Linked DNA regions of Homo sapiens. The protein of the gene in region 5 purifies or fractionates together with the protein of the main gene of each other region. This does not show direct contact. Each region holds a gene or a part of one and is shown on either strand. Other genes may lie near its edges.

Evidence for each region.
Region 1: the proteins of ATXN7L1 (region 5) and ZBTB10 purify together in Homo sapiens (affinity purification with mass spectrometry; one large-scale study listed by BioGRID and IntAct). This does not show direct contact.
Region 2: the proteins of ATXN7L1 (region 5) and LONRF2 purify together in Homo sapiens (affinity purification with mass spectrometry; one large-scale study listed by BioGRID and IntAct). This does not show direct contact.
Region 3: the proteins of ATXN7L1 (region 5) and DHX40 purify together in Homo sapiens (affinity purification with mass spectrometry; one large-scale study listed by BioGRID and IntAct). This does not show direct contact.
Region 4: the proteins of ATXN7L1 (region 5) and LANCL2 purify together in Homo sapiens (affinity purification with mass spectrometry; one large-scale study listed by BioGRID and IntAct). This does not show direct contact.
Region 6: the proteins of ATXN7L1 (region 5) and TARBP1 purify together in Homo sapiens (affinity purification with mass spectrometry; one large-scale study listed by BioGRID and IntAct). This does not show direct contact.
Region 7: the proteins of ATXN7L1 (region 5) and GNPAT purify together in Homo sapiens (affinity purification with mass spectrometry; one large-scale study listed by BioGRID and IntAct). This does not show direct contact.

The regions. Positions count from the first base shown.
Region 1 is NC_000008.11:80,524,226-80,526,765, reverse strand, and holds the end of ZBTB10 (zinc finger and BTB domain-containing protein 10), read right to left. Parts: 3' UTR 501-2,540; downstream 1-500. UniProt on the Homo sapiens protein: May be involved in transcriptional regulation.
Region 2 is NC_000002.12:100,271,375-100,274,438, forward strand, and holds the end of LONRF2 (LON peptidase N-terminal domain and RING finger protein 2), read right to left. Parts: 3' UTR 501-3,064; downstream 1-500.
Region 3 is NC_000017.11:59,603,610-59,606,227, reverse strand, and holds part of DHX40 (probable ATP-dependent RNA helicase DHX40), read right to left. Parts: intron 1,114-2,618; coding exon 1,044-1,113; intron 783-1,043; coding exon 554-782; intron 1-553. UniProt on the Homo sapiens protein: Probable ATP-dependent RNA helicase.
Region 4 is NC_000007.14:55,399,837-55,403,336, reverse strand, and holds part of LANCL2 (lanC-like protein 2), read right to left. Parts: intron 3,381-3,500; coding exon 3,233-3,380; intron 2,164-3,232; coding exon 2,017-2,163; intron 1-2,016. UniProt on the Homo sapiens protein: Necessary for abscisic acid (ABA) binding on the cell membrane and activation of the ABA signaling pathway in granulocytes.
Region 5 is NC_000007.14:105,604,272-105,607,599, forward strand, and holds the end of ATXN7L1 (ataxin-7-like protein 1), read right to left. Parts: 3' UTR 501-3,328; downstream 1-500.
Region 6 is NC_000001.11:234,430,680-234,434,179, forward strand, and holds part of TARBP1 (tRNA (guanosine(18)-2'-O)-methyltransferase TARBP1), read right to left. Parts: intron 2,893-3,500; coding exon 2,731-2,892; intron 1-2,730.
Region 7 is NC_000001.11:231,258,212-231,261,711, reverse strand, and holds part of GNPAT (dihydroxyacetone phosphate acyltransferase), read right to left. Parts: intron 1,206-3,500; coding exon 1,029-1,205; intron 1-1,028. UniProt on the Homo sapiens protein: Dihydroxyacetonephosphate acyltransferase catalyzing the first step in the biosynthesis of plasmalogens, a subset of phospholipids that differ from other glycerolipids by having an alkyl chain attached through a vinyl ether linkage at the sn-1 position of the glycerol backbone, and which unique physical properties have an impact on various aspects of cell signaling and membrane biology.

The DNA.
Region 1 (2,540 bases), on a different chromosome or scaffold from region 5:
TGAAATAATAAAACGTATAACTTTTAGGCAAATATAAGACTAACAAAAACATACCTACATATGTAAAATTCTAGACTTCACCTTAGGTAAAGTCCTAAAATAACTTCTTCAAATTTCCTTTGCCTAATGAGGATATGGCCCAGGACTAGTACTCTGGGATGCTGATTCAATTCCTACATTTGCTATTATTTGGAATTGGCACATTTTATTAATGATTTAGGTGACAAGTACTTGAAAAATTAGTGTGGGAAGATCTGCTTTGGAGAATTACCCATGTCTGTACATAAATGCCATAATCCTAATTATCTGGATTATTAGGAATCCAGATGCTACAAATATCCAAGGAGACTACTTGGAAACAGGGGACAGGTTGACAAGAGATGCTAAGCTTCACATTACCTTTTACATGAATATGTCTTTCATACGGTAAAATATAAATGCCAAAACCCAACATACCTCTTTACAAATACAAAAATCATGTTGGCAACTAAAACATTAGGTCATTTTAAAATACCTTTATTGATGTATTATTGCACTCTACATCAAAACTCCAACAGGGCTTTTCTTCTAGTTTTTTCACGTATAGACCGAATGTTGGGCATTTAAATGTTAGTGGTGTATATGCCAGACATTTTAAAACAAATACTTTGCAGCAAATGGCTAATAATTCTAAGTGTTCTGTTATGGAGACGGTTTAAAAAAAAAATCACAAAGGCTACTTTTGCATTGAGATTTCCATAGTAACATTTGCAGTAGGTTGGATTTGGTCATTACATCTTGCAGTAACATTATCTACTAGGGTTATGTATCCAGGGAAAGGATCCCAAAGGCTCAGTGTGACACCACGTATCATATGCTTGGCAACACAAAATAACTAAACGAAACTGGCTTGATAGCTACATGCCATATGATACTAATAGGCAAAATCCTTAAAGTTGCTAGTGCCTTTTGTCACTCACTTAGTAAATACTTTTGATCAACAAGCTATGTGCCAAATACTATTTGAGTGTACTCTGGAATCTTCTAACTTCAAACTTATCCCTAATCTCAAGTATTTATTGAATGAGTTTGGTACAGAAAAATAATACTGAAATTGAAGTTCAGGAGTCCTGGGTCCTAAAACTGACTGGAGTCACTGTAGCAACCTCTCTGGGTATGCTTCATTAGTCTCTTACAGTCTCTTTCAACCTAAATAATTCTACAATAATCCTGAAACCATCTTATGTATTATCTCACCAACTGTTAGGACCTGCGCCAAGAAGACTGTCTTGTGTTTATCTTTCACCAAGATTCTAACACATACCTACTTACACTTGGAAGATTAGCTTTTTCTTATTGCCAAATTTAAGACTGGCCGTGGTGGGAAAAAATCATCTGGCTGACAGTAAGGCGGCAGTATTAATAGCAGGTAAGGCGCCATGCAGTTATGGAATCTGTAATATTTTTCATTCACTTTAATTAGCTGAATAGATTTCTATAGTTCACTTTCTTTCTTTAAACTTCAGAAAGACAGTTATGTCATAGCCTAAATTCTGAAGTACCTTTAGTTTTCTTACCTAAACATAGATCCAATAATTCAATTTCCTACACCTGCTCCCAAACACTGGTCTGCGGTGATTTGTGGTGAAAAAGAAAGAAGTTCAGATAGTGACTTTTTCTATTAAGCCAAACTTGGTGTCTAAATTCTTAATTTCCTAAATTATGTCCTTTTTAGTGTCAAAACATCCTTCGTCCAGTACTTATACATACCAAATTTTATCATTTTAGTGTTTGTTGACTAAGCAAAATAAAAAGCAACTACAAGGGTCCCAACACCTAAAAAAAACTAAGCACAAATCCAACTCTGAAATAGAAATGTCTGGTCAATACTGCCTTTGTCAAAATGATTAAGTAATCTCTTTCACTTTTCATAGCGTTATCTCCAGTGGTAGACCTTTTTCTGAAGCAGCCCCATTTCATCTTTGGATAATTAAAAACCGATTTTCAATCTTGAGCCAATGGTCCCAATCATGACCCCTTAGAAACATATAAAGTTTCTTAATTCTTCTGCCTCATGATAGCTCTTTACATGTTTAAAGATACTAGGCATTATAATGCTATGTGGGCTCCCCTTTATTGTGCCCTTCTCCAAACAAAATCAACAAACTCCTGTTTTTCTAAGTCAAGTCTGAATATCTGGCCAGTTCTGATTTCCTTTGCTCTATTACTAACTTTGAAATAACCTAAAAAGCTAGTTATGTTTTCTCTACATTAATAAAGTTTCAAAGACTTCAAATTTATAACATCACATCACTTGTAGTCAATCAGTCCACAAATATACAACATGGGATGAAGCAGTTTACCTTTGCTTTTCAACCCATTTCCAAGATTATGCACAAATGTAAATTACAGGGAATTTTTAATATTTTCTAAAACCTGTAGAGAATCTTAAAAGATACACTGATTACAAATCACTGCTATTAATTAAAGCAGGATTACTTGGAGGTAGTCTGTCATTTATGTACTTTCATATAAAAACATACAAATAAACAAAAAACCCT
Region 2 (3,064 bases), on a different chromosome or scaffold from region 5:
TTTGCCACGGAGAGCACTGAGATGTGGGGGATGCTTCTTACCACAGCATCATGTAGCCCATCCTGACTGAAACACCTGACTTCATGTGGAAAGGAAGGAAAAGATCTCAAGAACATAAAGAGGAACCTGTCCAGAAGCATACGCCTGTTCATTTTTAAACATATTGATTCAATAGTCATTCCAAGCATATTCAGGTGGGTGAGTGAGGTGGACAGTTTTGTTTATAATAAACCTTGGTTAGTTTTCACCAAATCCACTGGCTCAGGCCCCAGTCAGTGGACACAGTCACTGGGCCTGGAGGGAGGCCCAGCTGGGGACACAGAGGTGGGCCACGGGGCCGGGAGGGGGCAGCTTTCTGGAGGAAAAGCCAAATGTTAAAATCAAATTAAATAAAAAATTTAGTTTCTCAGCCACACTAACCACATCGTCAGTGCTCAAAAGTGACATGTGGCTGGTGGCTACCATACTGTACAGCACAAATACAGAGCATGTCTAAGTACTCATTTTCCTTATGACTCCGAGCTTTATTTCCAACAATGTCCGTCATCACAGAAAGTTTCATCCAACAGTGCTGAAGGAGTTAAGATTAGTCACTGCATGAGGAAGCGGGAAAATGCCTGATCCTTACAACTCACATATAAAAGACTTCATCAGAGGTTTTCCCAGATTTGACAACCATCCTATTTAAATGACATTACCAATAATGACTTGTGAAAACTGAAACTTTTAGTCTATGATTTTTGCCCCATATCCATGTTAGAGGAAGAACTTAAATATCATTCTCTCTTTAGTAACCAACACAAGATTGTCCTAAGAAGAAAAAGATGATCAAAGAGTATGCAGGGTTAGGTGCAGTGGCTTATGCCTGCAATCTCACACTTTGGGAGGCCAAGGTGGGAGAACTGCTTGAGCCCAGGAATTTGAGACCAGCTTGGGCAACACAGCTAGACCTCGTCTCCATAGAAAGTAAAAAAATTAGCCGGGTATAGCGGCATGCACCTGTGGTCCCAGCTACTCAGAAGGTTGAGGCAGGACAATCCTTTGAACCCAAGAGGTTGAGGCTGCAGTGAGCTATGCTTGTACCACTGCCCTCCAGCCTGGATGACACAGCAAGACCATGTCCCCCAAGAAGAAAATAAATAAATAAATAAACAAACAAACTAACCAGAGTATGTAGGTTAAAAAAAAGAAAAAAAAAGATGGGAAAGGTATCATAAAGGTGCCAGGAAGTTAATAAAAATACTTTTCAGTATTTTGTAGAGTGTTATGCTGTTTTAAATATTGTAATTTATGCCTCTAAAAATTCCAAATAAATATATGCTTTCATAGTTAACTCAGTATTTGCAATTCATATTCCTTTTCTTAAGAAGCACTACCCCCTTCCTCCCAAATAAACAACTATACAAGCTTCAGTTCTTATTAAATCTTATCTGCCTTGGATAGAAATGATTTTTAAAAGTAATTATGGTTTTAAGCCAAAGCCATTGGCAGCCCTCTTTCCTTTTTTTTCCTACTAAAATTAAATTGGAATCGTTCCACATCTGCACTGTGTTGAATACTGTTCCTCTAAAATTCATGTCCACTAGAACCTGTGGATATAACCTTATTTGGAAATACAGTCTTTGCAGATGTAATCAAGTTAAGATGAGGTCATCCTGGATTAGGGTGGAAGTTAAATCTAATGACTGGTGTCCTTATATAAGGAAAGGGATATCTGGACACAGACACACAGAGGGAAGAAGGCCATGTGACGATGGACACGGAAACTGGAGTGATGCAGCCGCTGGCCGAGGAAGGCCGAGGTCGGCCAGCAGCCACACCAGCTGGAGGAGATGAAGGAGGAGTTTTCCTGGGGCCTTCAGAGAAAGCCCGGCCCTACTGGCACCTTGGCTTTGGATTTCTAATGTCCAGAAATGTGAGCGAAGAAAACTGATTTATTGTGAAAAGCCGTCAGTCTGTGGTGATGTGTTAGTACATCCCTACGACACAAACACAAAGGCCTAGGCACTGATTTGATCTAATTTCTCATCAGTCTAGCCTATTACTTAGGTGTGATTATTTATTAAAGAACATTTACAACACTGTAAGTTTTATTCAGTTCAAATATCACATATTAGATATACAATACCAATTAATTGAAATGAACAGTACAAGAATACATGAAGTAAATATCATAACATTTAAGTTTCGTCTCACTTAGGCAACAAGAAATGCTGAGTAGTATTATTACATATTCAAACCAGACTTAAACTTCAGAAACAGAAGGCCAGATGAGTGACCTGTATCACAGGATATGACAACACATCACCTATCTCCAAACAAGAAAAAGCATGATTATTAAGTTTATCTACACCAGCTTATTTATTCAAATTTGCTCTTCTTATTAAACAGAAAAAAAATACACATTCAATTCCTAATTGGTAAAATCATTTCACAACTCTAAAATTAAGATGCTAATGACACCACTCTCCACTAGCATGAAAGAACAATATATGAATAGAGTACACAGCTTTCCAACCTATTAACAGGTTCTTATTTTCAGAATTGAGTGGGAAATTGTGTGTGGGGTAAACAGCATGAGAGAGAAGTCGGTCACTGGTTGAACTGTTCACAGTACAAAAAGGTGACAAAACTATGAAAGTGAAAATACTATGGTAAATAACGAAGGCCCCAATGCAATTTTTGAAAATGATCCCTGAAAAGCAAAAGGTTAGAGATACTCATGTTGCAAACTCCATCTTCATCCTTCAAAGGTCACATGCGCCAACCAGCCGAGACTCATGACAGTAAACTTCCTCAGGGTTCTCTATTATGATCAGGGCCAATCCTTCACCTCGAGGGCTGTCGTAGTACCCCGGGAGCCTCACATGACTCTCTCAGCCCCTCCCTGCTCTGAGTGACTGAGAGAACTTCCTTAGCTGCAGGGCTGCAGGCAGGTGCTTCTGCTCCTGAGCTCCTAAACACACCAAGGGGTGCTTGAAGGTCCAGGCCCGCCCCTCTCTAGAGGAAAAACCTACTCATTTGAGACTACAAACCTCTTCTAGAAGCTGTAACCTGAAATGCT
Region 3 (2,618 bases), on a different chromosome or scaffold from region 5:
CCTTGGATATACAAACTTAGCCAGGCGTGGTGGTGCATGCCTGTAATCCAGCTACTCAGGAGGCTGAGGCAGGAGAATAGCTTGAACCGGGAGGCAGAGGCTGCAGTGAGCCAAAATCACACCATTACACTCCAGCCTGGGCAATAAGAGCAAAACTCCGTCTCAAAGAAGAAAGAAAAAGAAAGAAAGAAAGAAAAAGCCCCTTGGAAACAAAGGGGATTCTGAGTTAATAATGCATAAATCATCACTTTTTTTTTTTTAGAGATAGTGTCTCACTCTGTCACCCCCAGGCTGGAGTGCACTGGTGAAATCACAGTTCACTGCAGCCTCAAACTCCTGGGTTCAAGCGATCCTCCTGCATCAGCCTCCCAAGTCACTGGGACTACAGGTGCACACCAACATGCCTGGCTAATTTTTATTTTTATTTTGCTAGAGATGGGATCTCACCACATTGCCCAGGTGGGTCACAACATTTTTATAAACAAAAATAGTGAAGTACTACTGGGAAGCAGTATGGCATAGTGGTTAAGAGTAGAACAAATGATTTACTCACCCTTTAGCTGCTTTACATTTTCCTTATTTGTCCATCTCCTTCTTGCATCTTCTCTCACTTCACGTCGGGCCACACTGCTCAAATCATGTGCATTAAATTCATGCAACTTGGGTAACAAGTCTCTTACCCATTCATAACGGATTGGGCATACAATTCTTGCGTAGACTTTGGTGGTAACCAATACCTCATGAAAAATGATCCATTCAAGTTTGGTTTCCTGTTCATGAAGCTATACAAAACATTTCTTTTAATGATGGTAACTCAATAACCTGCCCTATTCCACATTAAACCAACCAAATAGTCCAAATCCTTCTCAATTAATTCCTATCTTCTTCAAACAGGAGGCACAGGCCAACCAATACCCTTATAGATCTATGTAATATAGATATATGTAAATTTAACTCCAAAGTGAAAAGTAGAAGACATTTGTATATTACTTATTTCTACAACTTTACAAATTTCTTCCCTTTATTAAAAATGAAGTACTTACTGCTGAGGAAGGATGAATGTGAACTGGGCTTCCACGACCATCCATTGTGCAAAACGTTCTCCCAACAGATCTATAAACAGAAAAACAAAATGATAAAGACTACAACAGTAAAGCAATGAAGTAAATGGAGCATTACATTCAGCAATGAACAATTACAATATGTTCTACTACAAACAGCATTATAAGCAGAGGTTTACATTTATTCAACTGTCACTACAAGCTCTCTACCAATTCATCTTAAATTAATTATACAGGTTAAACAGTCACTACAATTAGGTATAAGTCACTACAATTAGGTATAAGGAATCAGTACAAATATTAACAATAATCTATGAGCTTTGAGAGCCAGGAACTTTATTAAAAAGTCAAAACTAAAATTCAAATAAATTAGCTAGACTTCTCAAGATCACCAGCGCTAACGCATGGTAAAACCAAGTCCTAAACAGTTCTTCTGACTTAAATATGGTTTCTTTATGTTATACTATGCTGCATCTCTTTTTAAAGGGATGATTTTTTCACTACTCTAAAACTTGACAATTAATCTATCATTTTTCCGATTCATGCCCTTATTTTCTTCTACATTACCCTACCTAAATGTCATTCCAAAAAACTTGTCAAAAAAATAAACCTAGTTCATTTGTCATAATTTATTTCCTATAGTACTTTGTATATATTCATAGTATAACCCAGATCAGACTGCACTGTAATTATTCACTTACATATCTGTACCCTCCATTAGACTCAGGTATCATCAAGAATGATGTAAGGACTCATGTTACTCTACTTTTCTATTTTTAGTACCTGCCCAGTGTTTGGCATACAGAGGGTAACCAAGATATACCATATTTTTAAAAGTGTGAAACAATCTAAATTTACAGAAAAGTTGAGAGTAAAAAAATTTTTACCTGAATCATTTGACAGCAAACTGCCAACCTAATACCCCATCATCCTCAAATACTCGACTGTGCACTTCTTACAATCAACAATCAAGAACATTCTCCGACATGACTATAACCATCAAAACCAGGAAATTAACACTGATACATTACTAACAATTAATCCTCAGACCCCACTGACATTTCACCAATTTGTCTTAATAATATCCTTTATAGCAAAAGGATGTAATTCAGAATCATACATTGCCTTTATTTTTCATTTCCCTTTGGTCTCCTTCATTCTGGAATACTTCCTCAGTCTTTGACTTTCATGATCTTGGCACCTTTAAAGATGTCAAGGCTAGTTACTGTGTGGTATGTCCCTCAGTTTGAGTTTGTCTGTTTCAGGATGATTAGATTCAGGTTATGCATCTTTAGCAGGAATATCACAGACATAATGCTGTGTTTTTCTCATTGTATCCTATCAGGAAGAACATGATTTTTATTTATTTCATTATGTTCACTTTGATTGCTTGATTTAGGTCACATATGCCAGGATTCTCCACTGTAAAGTTACTTTTTGCTTTTGTAATTAACAAAAATTTTATGGAGAGGTGCTTGTAAACAATTCCATTTCTCAATAAACTTTTACTCATTTATTTATACCACGATAGACACGATTTCACATTTTATTAAGTGC
Region 4 (3,500 bases), about 50 Mb from region 5:
CGAGTGCCTGCGATTGCAGGCGCGCGCCGCCATGCCTGACTGGTTTTCGTATTTTTTTGGTGGAGACGGGGTTTCGCTGTGTTGGCCAGGCTGGTCTCCAGCTCCTAACCGCGAGTGATCCGCCAGCCTCGGCCTCCCGAGGTGCCGGGATGGCAGACGGAGTCGCGTTCACTCACTCAGTGTTCAATGGTGCCCAGGCTGGAGTGCAGTGGCGTGATCTCGGCTCGCTACAACCTCCACCTCCCAGCTGCCTGCCTTGGCCCCCCAAAGTGCCGAGATTGCAGCCTCTGCCCGGCCGCCACCCCGTCTGGGAAGTGAGGAGCGTCTCTGCCTGGCCGCCCATCGTCTGGGATGTGAGGAGCCTCTCTGCCTGGCTGCCCAGTCTGGAAAGTGAGGAGCATCTCTGCCCAGCCGCCATCCCATCTAGGAAGTGAGGAGCGTCTCTGCCAGGCCGCCCATCGTCTGAGATGTGGGGAGCGCCTCTGCCCTGCCGCCCCGTCTGGGATGTGAGGAGCGTCTCTGCCCGGCCGCCCCGTCTGAGAAGTGAGGAGACCCTCCGCCCGGCAACCGCCCCGTCTGAGAAGTGAGGAGCGTCTCCGCCCGGCAGCCACCCCGTCTGGGAGGGAGGTGGGGGTCAGCCCCCCGCCCGGCCAGCCGCCCCGTCCGGAAGGGAGGTGGGGGGGTTAGCCCCCCGCCCAGCCAGCCGCCCCATCCGGGAGGGAGGTGGGGGGGTCATCCCCCGCCTGGCCAGCCGCCCCGTCCGGGAAGGATGTGGGGGGGTCAGCCCCCCGCCCGGCAAGCCGCCCCATCCGGGAGGTGGGGGGCGCCTCTGCCCGGCCGCCCCTACTGGGAGGAGAGGAGCCCCTCTGCCCGGCCAGCCGCCCCGTCCGGGAGGGAGGTGGTGGGGTCAGCCCCCCGCCCGGCCAGCCGCCCCGTCCGGGAGGTGAGGGGCGCCTCTGCCTGGCCGCCCCTACTGGGAAGTAAGGAGCCCCTCTGCCCGGCCAGCCGCCCCGTCCGGGGAGGGAGGCGGGGAGGTCAGCCCCCCGCCCGGCCAGCCGCCCCGTCCGGGAGGGAGGCGGGGGGGTCAGCCCCCCGCCCGGCCAGCCGCCCCGTCCGGGAGGTGAGGGGCGCCTCTGCCTGGCCGCCCCTACTGGGAAGTGAGGAGCCCCTCTGCCCGGCCAGCCGCCCCGTCCGGGAGGTGAGGGGCGCCTCTGCCCGGCCGCCCCTACTGGGAAGTGAGGAGCCCCTCTGCCCGGCCACCACCCCGTCTGGGAGGTGTACTCAACAGCTCATTGAGAACGGGCCATGATGACAATGGCGGTTTTGTGGAATAGAAAGGGGGGAAAGGTGGGGAAAAGATTGAGAAATCGGATGGTTGCCATGTCTGTGTAGAAAGAGGTAGACATGGGAGACTTTTCATTTTGTTCTGTACTAAGAAAAATTCTTCTGCCTTGGGATCCTGTTGATCTGTGACCTTACCCCCAACCCTGTGCTCTCTGAAACATGTGCTGTGTCCACTCAGGGTTAAATGGATTAAGGGTGGTGCAAGATGTGCTTTGTTAAACAAGATGCTTGAAGGCAGCATGCTCGTTAAGAGTCATCACCACTCCCTAATCTCAAGTACCCAGGGACACAAACACTGCAGAGGGCCGCAGGGTCCTCTGCCTAGGAAAACCAGAGACCTTTGTTCACTTATCTGCTGACCTTCCCTCCACTACTGTCCTGTGACCCTGCCAAATCCCCCTCTGCGAGAAACACCCAAGAATGATCAAAAAAAAAAAAAAAAGAAAATTGGAAAAAAAAAAAAAAAAAAAAAAAAAAGACTCCATACCAAATGTACTCAGGAACTCACTGGACTCTTAGAAATCCACTGCCTGTGGTTTATGTGGCAGAGTTACGCATCAGCGATTCAAAGTAGGGTATTTCAATCCAGACTGCTTTGTTTATATGCAGGATTCATTTCCCATTTCATGTTTGATCAAATATACTGTAGTGTGTAAGAGTATTCTTACCTACCTGCATTAACATATAGTAAATTCCAGCCATGCCATGGGCTGCTCCAACGTACTGCTTCCGGTGCCACTGGTACAACAGCGGGCAGCGCTCCGTTTTTCTTTCTTCCCTTGACAAAGTCTTACCCGATTCAATAATAGCATTGACTACCTACAGAGATAACAAGACAGCATAAATCTAAAACTGTATATGTACCCTGTTGTAGTCTAATTAACAGTATGTCATATATATATGACATATATAGAGAGAGAGGCAGAAGCCTTAATCTAAAAGTCTTTAAGCAGTTAGCAGCTAATATAGTTATATTTATTTTATAAATTAATAAATGCAGGCAAAAAGAAATCAGGAGCCAATGTCAGAGTAGGAAAAGATACTGTCTAAGAAATAAAAAATTCTTTGCATAAAAAGTCAACGAAAAATCTAGAAAAACTTCTTATAAAACTGTTTTGGATTTCTTAGTTGCTTCGTAGCTGCAGTATTTTTCCCAAAAGAGCAGCACATACACCTATCAGGAAAGGCTGGAGGAACTGGCTTTATTTATAAAAGGCTAATGATATGAGGTCTGCTGTGGCATGAAGGATTTCAGTTAGATCAACAGAATATCATGTCTGGGATGACTGTTTCCTCACGTCTATCTCCTCTCATCCTTTTTGGGAAAGTATTCCAAGTTTTAGCTGGGCATCTGGCTCCCTAGTTAGAGACAGCTGAACACAGACACTTGATGAAGTTCTGGCACTGGGATGGGAGCAGAAGTAAAGAGGGCAACTTGGAGACTGAGTCCCTAACAAGGAAGCTGCGTTGCCTCCACCTCCTCTTTTCCCTTCATAGGCTGAGGGGCTAAACTAGCCTTGGTCCTGCAAATAAGGGTATGCCCCTAGGATAAGGCAGAATGAGACAGAAGAAGCTGGTCCCCACTCATACCAGCCTGAAATGCTTACCAGCTGAGACATCTCACGAAAGATAAATAAACATTCTAACTTTCTGAAGCTGCTGCTGTTTAGCTCCAGTAAAAACTGATAAATTAATACAAGATGAAAGAGAGTACAGATTTTTTTTGTTAATGTTCCTAGAAAAAAGCAGGGACTATTTCTTACTTTTGATGAGTTGCTTTAAAAAAGTAATGCTACCTAGAAGTAAAGTCCAGCTGTTAATACAACTCAATGCTAGCAAATAGGTTTGAATGGTAGAGACGCCCATAGTTACCCATACCCCATAGTACCTCTTTAATAGCTGACTCACACACGGTGCCTGGACCTATCTCTGTGTTCAGGTACAGTAAGGCATACAGATAACCTGCCCGTCCATAAAGCAGCTCATCAGGAAGGTCTGATTCTTGGCAGACAACCGATCTCTGGAGCTGCAAAAGTCTAACCAATAAGAAAAATTAATTTTTTCCCAGTGGAAGTCTAAAGTACTTCTTCCTGAAACACTAACCCTGTTGCTTTAGGAATTACCTATTATTTATTTTACATTTAAAACAATTATTT
Region 5 (3,328 bases):
AAAAAAAAAAAAAAAAAGAAATACCAAAAATTTAAATTTTATGAAAACCCGAAGACTTTGTTTTACAAACATATAAATTATTTTATTTACAAAGCCATGTTACAAAAAAAAAAAAAGCAAAAAAAAAAAAAAAATACAATTGCTTACTGGAGAATATTTCCAGGCCTGGTGAGGAACCATGGCAGTATCAATAGATACATGTTTGTTCTTTCCTTTTAAAACTGTAAGCCATAGAATTTACTATTTACACCTACTTTAGACATTTATTCTGCTTACAATATCACAGGCATGGAATGAACTCTATCTGATAGTGCTAATACATAGAGGTGCGGGACGAAGAAGGAAAATACTTAGTGTTACAAAATATGGATTGTAGAAAAGAAACCCACTCCACAAGTGTGGCATTTGTTTAGAATGATCGGACATGCTTTCTTCAAAATTTTTCTGGAAAAGGTTCTAAAATTGGTAGTAGGAAAGGACAAATGAGCAGGTGCAAATTCTTGTCTGTGCAACAACAGTTATTTAATATACCCCATGACTGACCAGCTACGTAAAACCCACAGAGTTTTGTTAAAGTGCCATGGGCCGACAGCATAACAAAATATAAGGTGTAAATAGAAAATTTCTTTTTTTCCTTTTTTAAAACAAGAGTTCACTGAGAATCAGCAATAATAGAATATGCTGTATAAACTATTCTCTACAAAGGTTGATCAGCATTATTTACAATTGGTACATTGATACAAAAGAAGGCATACAAGTTATCCAAGTCGCTTTTTTTTTTTTTTTTTTTTTTTTATGGCTGACAGGTCTATGCATTGCGTTATGCTTCACAACCAGAGCTTTCGAGCCTCTATGGCTGGCGACAAGTCAGGAGATCTTCAGGCAAAGAGGGGTGTGTGCAGTCAAGGGGCTGGGAGAGAAGACTGAGTGGGTGTGCAGAACAGAAGGACCCAGAGGACATCACCCTAAAAATGTTTTATAGGCTGCTCCAGTTTAACTCCATTAAGACAAACCCAAAGAGAACCTTTTATTTGCATTCCATTTTTCAAGCTGCAAGTTTTTAATACATCATTGTAAAGTAAACCTGTGGTTGACTGCCAAGGAAGAATACTGTGGGCTTTCCCTTTTTGCCCAGTTTTCCAGAAATATCCTCACCTTGGTCATAGCCAGTCTTTTGACAAAGTAAGCAGCATTCGATGAGGGTGGGGGGGGGGGTGGGGGCTCTTTATTCCAGCTTCCAATTCAAGATGTAGAGAGCTACAATGTCTAAACCTATTGAATTGCTCCTTTAGTCCTTGAGACATTATTTCTCAGAAGCAGCCACTTAATCTCTCAACCTTTGTTTTCCCTCTTTGACTATAAGAGTTTATAAATCAGAGGGTTATTTTGTTGTGGAGATTTTGTTTTTTGTTTTTACTCCTGCAAGTTTTACAACTCAAAATAAATTATAAAAAACAACAGACCTCTGAAACCGAACAAGACAAAATTGTGCAAAAATAACAAAGATATGTACATACTTTTCAGTCTGAAGAAATGTACAATAAAAACATAATTCAAAGAACATTTTAAAAATATAAACATTGCTTAAACTTTCCTAAGTTTCATATTGTTTCTGAAACTATTCTGGTCAGTTAGCTCTGTAATATAGTAAAACATAAATTATTACAAAATTAACACTATAAAAATTTACTTTAAGAATATCTTCTAAACTTTTTTTCAAAGGGTCTAACCTTGTTTATAATTTCTTAAACATTTATAAGTCTTAAAATCTCCTTAACCTTTTTTTTTTAAAAAAAGAAAAAGTAACAATCATCCCTTCAATTTGCAGTCTCTTTTCCCAAGACGTAAATAAACCAGCATATAAGTGCACTTTTAACACTGTAGAAATAAAAATGAAATCATCCGAACTAATGTCCTGGTACTTAATATCAACTCCTGATTTTTAAACAAATCATTTTATATTAAAAAATTTAGTAATCCTATAAGAAACACTCACTGTCAGTGCAATTCCATTGATGAAAATCACTCCATTTGCCTCCCGTCTTTGCAATTCCAATTGTGTGGTGAAACTTAACAGTAGTCTGATCTTTGGGTTGGGGGAACGGGAAAGAAAAGGAAAACTTTGGGGTGGGGATGAGGGTTCTGCCCAGCTATGAAACTAGCATTCATTTCTGATTTAAGGATGAAACAAAACCTCCCAGTATCTTTGCTATACATCATATACAAAGTTACATGATTAATAGCACAGAACACCTATTTTATGTTGTGAATTCCTTTCCTGATTATGATTCCCTACTAGAGCTTATGGTATTGCTGTTTCTTTTAAAACTCCAGTGTGAATAGTTCTATGGCTGCAGGGCTCCAGCGTGGCTCTTCCAAATGGCTGTTCTTCACTGAGCAGTGGCTGTCCTTACCATTCCTTCATGGGGATGGCTGTCTCTAAGACAGCAAAAGCTGATCCATGGGTGTGCTGATCCCACCAAGTCCCTGTGGCCCAGGGCATGGGGGTGGGTGGGAAATGCTATTATTTATTCTGACAAAAGGTTTGACACATACCCTTTTGTGGAAGCTCTCCCTGGGGGGCTCTTCCTAGCCCAGGAAGGCAGCCTAAGAACCTTTAGCAGCTGTGGTCACCGTGCCTCCTCATGGAGTGGCTTTCTGGGTTCTCACGACCTTTTTCCTGGGATTTCTCCCTCCTAGCTCACCCTGCTGTGGGCACTGGCACACTGATTCCTGGAAGGGATTCTGCAGATTCCTGACCAGCTCAGACCACCACAGTCTCCAGTTTTTTTAGGGATCATCTCCTACCCACCATGCTCTGCTTGCTGCCACCTTCCCAAACCTGTTCTGGCCCCTGTCCCTGACTGGTTTATCCTTTCTGAGCTGCACAGCTGGACAGTGGTATTAGGTAAACCACATCACTAAACGGCCACTGTTCTCAATCTCGCTTCTAGCATTTGGCTCCAGCCATGGTGGGCTGTGGAAACTGGATGAGGGAACCCCACCCACCCTCCAACTCTCCACTCCCAGCTCCTCCCCAGCAAAGCCCCCTCTCCCTGCACACAATCCTGAGGGGATCCTATGAGAGCCAGGTCCTTTGAAGACCAGTGAGGACCCAGAGAGTGGTAGACGTAGGGATGGAAGGAATCGGGTGGAGATGACAGGAAGAAAAAGGGCTCTGCCTGTGCTACAGTTCAAGAGCTTCAGAGCATGCCAACCTGGAACCAACATTCTGCAATGTCTGCTCTCATGGCTGGAGCAAAAGGATGGTACAGTAGCAGCATCAGGAGCTAGGGGAGTGACCCCAAATTTGGAAGAATGTAAAAAC
Region 6 (3,500 bases), on a different chromosome or scaffold from region 5:
TGGGTGAGCCTTATTTTAACTGTCTGCTGAAACATGTTAAAAAAAAAAATAAAAGGCTCCAGGTTACAAATAATTCCTTCTATCAGCTGCACGCTACTTTTGGAGAAGTCACGTAGTCCAGCAGTTAAGAGCTGGACTCAGGAACCACAAAGCCCAGGTCTGAATCCTAGCTCTGTGCTACTACCAGTATGAGTGTAGACATACTACACCTTAGTTTTCTCATCTGTAAAATGGGGACAGTAACAGAATCTACTTCACGGGGTTATTGTGAAGATTAAGCAAATGGGTTACTGCATGTAAAACACTTGGAACTCTACACGTAGGAAAGGAGGGTAGCCAAGACAACCTGGTCTATACTTAAAGAGAAAATCGACAATCTCTCACCAAGCTAGGAGTGCAGGCAAGAAGTCAGACACAGAAAACAACAGCACTGAGAGATTACAGCAGTTCCCTCAAATACTGCCAACCAGTAATGTCTGTATCAGAAAGGAAATTTCTACTTATTCCATACCCCTCTTTCACTCTCCAAAAATAAATCAACCATCTCTACAGAAAAATTTTACATATCAACACTGCCAACATATGAAATAGAATTTAGTGTTACCTTTGAGCCAACTATCGTCCCTGCTAACCTTAATGTAATTCAGTGAATTACTAAAGGAAGCCGATTTTTAAGAATAAGAGTTACTGTGGCATGGTTCATGGTTTGGTTGTATATTTAGAACTCACAATGTTCTTTCATAACACTAACAGACTAATAGGTACTAGACAGGATGCTGAAATATTAATCATCGTCTTTATCATTTCCTCCTAGAATTAAATTATTAAAGCAATCGAGTATCTTCTTTGTTTTTCTTAGTAGCCTGGATTAGTTACACTGATTGAGTTCAACTTATTAAACACTTACCACATGTTAAGTGAAAATGGCTAACTTTTATTGAGGACTGTCTATCTGCCAGGTACAGTTCTAAAGACTTAACATGAATGAGCTTTCTTTAATTCCCACATCAACTCTATAATCCCCATTTTGCAGGTGCAGTAAATGAGACACAGAGGGGTTAAATAATGTAGGTCACACAGCAAAAATAAAGCCAGAATTCAAACCCAGCAACTCTAACTCCAAAGCCTGTGCTCTTCATTACTAAGCCTTATTGTGCCATGTTTAAGAAATGCCTTGGCCAGGCGTGGTGGCTCACGCCTGTAATCCCAGCACTTTGGGAGGCCGAGGTGGGTGGATCACCTAGGTCAGGAGTTCGAAACCAGCCTGGCCAACATGGTGAAACTCCATCTCTACTAAACACACAAAAATTAGCCAGGCATGGTGGCGGGCACCTACAATCCCAGCTACTCAGGAGGCTGAGGCAGGAGAATCGCTTGAACCTGGGGGGCCAAGGTTGCAGTGAGCCAACTGCACAACTGCATTCCAGACTTGGCAAAAGAGCGAAACTCCGTCTCCAAAAAAAAAAAAAAAAAGCCTTGAGGCCAGGCACGGTGGCTCACACCTACAATCCCAGAACTTCAGGAGGCTGAGGCAGGCAAATTGCTTGAAGTCAAGAGTTCGAGACCACCCTGGCCAACATGGCAAAACCCCAACTCTACTAAAAATACAAAAATTAGCCGGGCATGGTGGCACACGCCTGTAGTCCCAGCTACTCGGGAGGTTGAGATAGGAGAACTGCTTGAACCCAGGAGGCTGAGACTGCAGTGAGCCAAGATCACGCCACTGCACTCGGTCTGGGTGACAGAGCGAGACTCTGTTCAAAAATATATATATATAGGAAAAGATATATATGCATACATTACTCCAAAAACAAGAAAGATGGAAATACACACTACAAGTGAGGCATAAAGAGCAACAGGAAGATGAAAGAGAGTGAGATACTAATCGAAGAAGACCTCTAAGAGAAAAGAGATTCCAGTTGGTCCATAAAAGGGGAGACCAGATGCTGCCAAGTGTATGCTGGAGGAGAGGGCACTCATTCTCCACGGAGGGACCAGACTGAATGACAGCCTCCATGAGGAAGATAGGACACATGCTTGTGATTTGTAAAACTCTAAGTAGCCTAGAGTGGCTGCAACGTCACGGCACTGTGGGAAGGAGGGGGAAAGGCATTAGACAGTGGACAGCTAGGCTGAAAAATGAGGTAGGAAGCCAAGCATGGAGGGCAATGATGTCAGACTATAAAATGTCCTTTACTGGACACGTTTGGGCAAAAGACCTAGTACAGGTGAAATGTCTATATCTAAATGATTTTAAGATGATGCCTCTTATATGTTTAATATTATATTAAGAGTATCACCTGTAATCCCAGCACTTTGGGAGGCCAAGGCAGGCGGATCACGAGGTCAGGAGTTCGAGACTAGCCTGGTTAACATGGTAAAACCCGTCTCCACTAAAAAATAGAAAAATTAGCCAGCCATGGTGGCACACACCTGTAATCCCAGCTACTCAGGAGGCTGAGGCAGGAGAATCACTTGAACCCAGGAGGTGGAGGTTGCAGTGAGCCAAGATGGTACCACTGCACCCCAGCCTGGGTGACAGAGCCAGACTCCATCTCCAAAAAACAAAAAGTATCAATCTTAACTACATCTTATCACTAGAGGGTATATTTTAAAACTGAATTTTAGTTAACGCTTTGTATGGTATCAAAATAGTGTATAAGAACTGAATATGTATTCCCTGTATGCCTTATTCAAGATAACTACAAACCTTGAATCAAAGAGGCTTACCTGTCCACTGTCCATCTCTTGAAGATGCTGAATGGATGCATTTTTCAAAAGAGAAATAACTCTCCAGATAGGGTTACCCCTTTTCCACCCAACCTTCAAATGCAGATTTATAAGCTCAGTTAACACCATCAGGTATAAATGGCAACGATCCAGATCTGAAACCTAAGACAAGGATTAAAACACTTAAGGGTACAAGCAAGGTCCATGATTTTCACAAAACTACAAGCCTTCAGGCAGGAGAAGTTTACTTAAAGGACCACAACAAGACACTGATGAGAAAATAAGTTCTTTTCTCCAAGCAGCCTTCCATAACCTCCCACGCAGAGCTAAGGACTTCCTTCTCTGTGCTTACACAGTGACTGTGCATTCAGCACAATTATGGTGCATTTCACAGTTGAGTCATCTGTCTCCCTACCTATGAGGGAGACCTTAGATGGCAGAAATTACCATCTACCAATTCTTATGTCCCTAGGGCTAGTACATCATAAATAATAATGATAATGGTTATAGCAATGACTACTTCCACTGTTTACAAAAATCACTTCTCACAAAAAAGATCACTGTCCCACTTTCATAAGACAACTAAGTTTCAGAGAGGTTAAACAACTTAAATGCACATTTTTTGACTCATAAACCCAGAAAAAAATGGGTTCAGCTCTACCATGCACCAGCCCTGTGACATAGGACAAGTTATTTAACTCTTCACTACTAAGCCTTATTGTGTTAAGATCTCATAATTCAGGTGGGGAGATGGATGACTCAATTGTGAA
Region 7 (3,500 bases), on a different chromosome or scaffold from region 5:
TAATAATTAATTCAGGCAAAAATCATCAGTGGGTGCAAAAACGAGTGGGGTAAAGTATGATGCAAAACAGGGTATTTAGCCATTTTCAAAGAGTCTTTTCACAAGATATTCATTAATTATAAAGGGAAAAAATAATAACTTTACAGCAGAGAAACCTGGCAGTCATAACGATAACCAACTGATGGAAGTGAAACATCTCCAGTAATGAAACCGACAGGCACCATGCATTGCTGACACGACCCACTGAGAAGAATGCATCGCTTCCGGGGTGTTCCTAGCAAAGGTACACAACCCGAGCCCAATACTGAGATAACATCACTCAAATTCAAACCATTTCACACTTCAAAATAATTAGCCTGTTCTTTAAAAAAAAAAAAAATTAGCATGAAACACAAATACAGATACTAAGGAATTATTTTAGATTAAAAGAGTCTAATATGGAAGTGGATACAGAAGAAAGTTGAACACTTTCTAGGATTTCTAGCGCAACACATGAGCTACGATTTTCTTTAGCTAGACAGGACATGACTGGGACAACTGGTGAAATATGAGTCAGGTCAGTATTACTAGTATTTGTTCAATGTTAATTTCCTTATTTTGATACTTGTACCATAAGATAATGCCCTTAATTATAGGAAAAACACAGCAGAGTATTAGGAAAAGGATAAAGGAAATGCTGTAAGGGAATCTAGGTGAAGTATATACAGGAATTCTTTGTATTTCTTTTGTAACGTTACTGAATATCTGGCATTAAGTTAGTCTATAAGTCTTACTTGACTAAGTTAGTCTGAAGCCTGTAGGTCTGCAGTTAAAAGGAAACAAAAAAACAGAAAACAACCTTCAGAGATGCACATCCTCTTCTGCCTAGACTGGAGGCCTGATGATTAGGCCCTAGGCTTTTGATTGACCAAGTGAGCTGTCCTTGAGTTGATTAAATTGTGAGGGGTTGAAAAAGAGACTGTTTTTTTTTTTGTTTAATTTTAAGATGAGACTTTTATTTCTTTATTTTTTTAATAATCAATACTCACTTTCTGAATACCTTCTTCATTTACACACACCTTCGAGAAAATTTGTTTAAATACTTTGCTCAGGGTGAAGGCACAAAACCGAATGGCTCCAAGACGCAGTTTGTGACTCATTTCATCTAAGATCTCACTCACTTCCTCTCGGAGGACATCCACAGATTGAAGGGATTCCTTGGAAAGCTAAAAGGAAAGGAAAAGCAGGAATAATTTCTAACAACAATAACAGAAAAGTCAGAAAGCTTTACTCAAACCAGTATGACTAGTTCCAAATGGATTAATCTTCTATAACTCAAAGATAGTGTCTTCTTAATTGACAACTTCCCAACACAGTCATAGTAGATAAATGAGCCTATTTAAAGAAGTTTAAAGGCCAGAAATTAAAAGAAAAATGGCTTTCTAGGATAGCATTTTAGAGTGAAGAAAACACTTCACCTTTCCATTTGGTTTGTTAATAAGTTTATATCCAAACTCTAAAATAAGTTGCTGCCCATGGTCTAGTGTCCTAGCAAATAGTGGCTTCTCTCAGTGTATTGCTGCAGTGCTCCACCAGCTGGCTCAATGCTATTACAAGGTAATATACAAGATCACATTGAAATTACCGACTCAGACTACATCAGATCTATCAAGTCACAGGCACACAAAGTCCCAAGCTATCAAAGGATAATTAGTGAAATAAAGAATCTCACAACGGAACTTATTTTATTCACATGGCCCTCTAGCTCTTTTGTAAAGAAAATAAAATGTTTGCTGTGTGCTGGGACTGTCAAGGGCCTGGAGATGAGCAAGTCAGTTTCTATCCTTGAGGAAGCCCTGATTTGCCCATTTTCATTGTCCCCTAAACAAGCACTTTGAAATGAAGTCTGTAGGATAAGTAATCCTTATGCTTCCCAAAGGAGAGTGCTTTGCTTTAGGATGAGCTCAGAAGCTCAGAGGACAGGTGTTGGCACCCCAATTACATGTAGTGAAGAAGTATCTTACCCTTTTTTTTCATTGAGGTGAAATTCACACACTATAAAATTAACCTTTTTTTTTTTTTTTTGAGACGGAGTTTCGCTCTTGTTGCCCAGGCTGGAGTACAATGGTGCAATCTCGGCTCACCGCAACCTCTGCTTCCCGGGTTCAAGCGATTCTCCTGCCTTAGCCTCCCGAGTAGCTGGGATTACAGGCATGTGCCACCATGCCCAGCTAATTTTGTATTTTTAGGAGAGACGGGGTTTCTCCATGTTGGTCAGGCTGGTCTTGAACTCCCGACCTCAGGTGATCCGCCCGCCTCAGCCTCCAAAATTGCTGGGATTACAGGCGTGAGCCACCACACCCGGCCAAATTAATCATTTTAAAGTGAACTATTCAGTGGTATTTTGTACATTCACAAATGTTGTGCAACCACCATCTCTATCTTGCTGCATATCCTATCTTTTGGGGGGCTCAGTTCAACAGGGAGGAACTGGGATAAACTCTTTCCTCTTACCTGTGTTCCTTTGTTTTACTCAGGTTACCTGAAACAGTGATTGTGCCAAAAAAAAAAAAAAGTTTATAAATATAGTCAGAAGAGAACTCATACTGAATGGACTGAAGACTAAATGAACTGCTGAGGAACTAAAGACAGTGGCCACAGAATAATGGGAAAGTTTGAATGAGAAGTAAAGGGATGATATGAATTAAAGCAAAAAATGCTCTCCCTAGATGCAAAAGTCCTGGACCTGTTTTTTTGTTTTTATTAATTAGCATTCCACTTTTAAAAAATTGTGTTGGCTGGGCGTGGTGGCTCATGCCTGTAATCCCAGCACTTTGGGAGGCCGAGGCAGGTGGATCACGAGGTCAGGAGATTGAGACCATCCTGGCTAACACGGTGAAACCCCGTCTCTACTAAAGAATAGAAAAAAAAAAAATTAGCTGGGTGTGGTGGTGGGTGACTATAGTCCCAGCTACTCGGGAGGCTGAGGCAGGAGAATGATGTAAACCTGGGAGGCGGAGCTTGCAGTGAGCCAAGATAGAGCCACTGCCTCCAGCCGGGGCGACAGAGCGAGACTCTGTCTCAAAAAAAAAAAAAAAAAAAAAAAAAAATTGCATTAAAATACACATAACATAAAATATGCCATTTTAACCATTTTTAAGTATACAGCTCAGTGGTGTTAAAGCCTCGGACCTGTTTATAGACCAAATAGAAGAAGTCCCCTGAGAGAAAGGCTGAAGATAGAGGAAAGGGAGCAGATGCATGCCAAAGGTCTCAGAAGAGGCTGGACGGGATGACTTCCGACCACAGGGGTGTGGCTAGCTGTGACCAGGAGAGCAGGCGCCTTTTCTCTGAGACTGGACTAAAAGGGACAGATGGAAGAAGGGATCCTGAGGCTGCAGAATGTGGATCTGTATAACTCACCCACTCTCCCAGGAGCAGCCAGACACCTGGTTATAGGAACAGAGAAGGTGAGTTGGCAGATTCCAGGCTGCTTTTTTTCCTGGTCAGTCTGGAAGGAA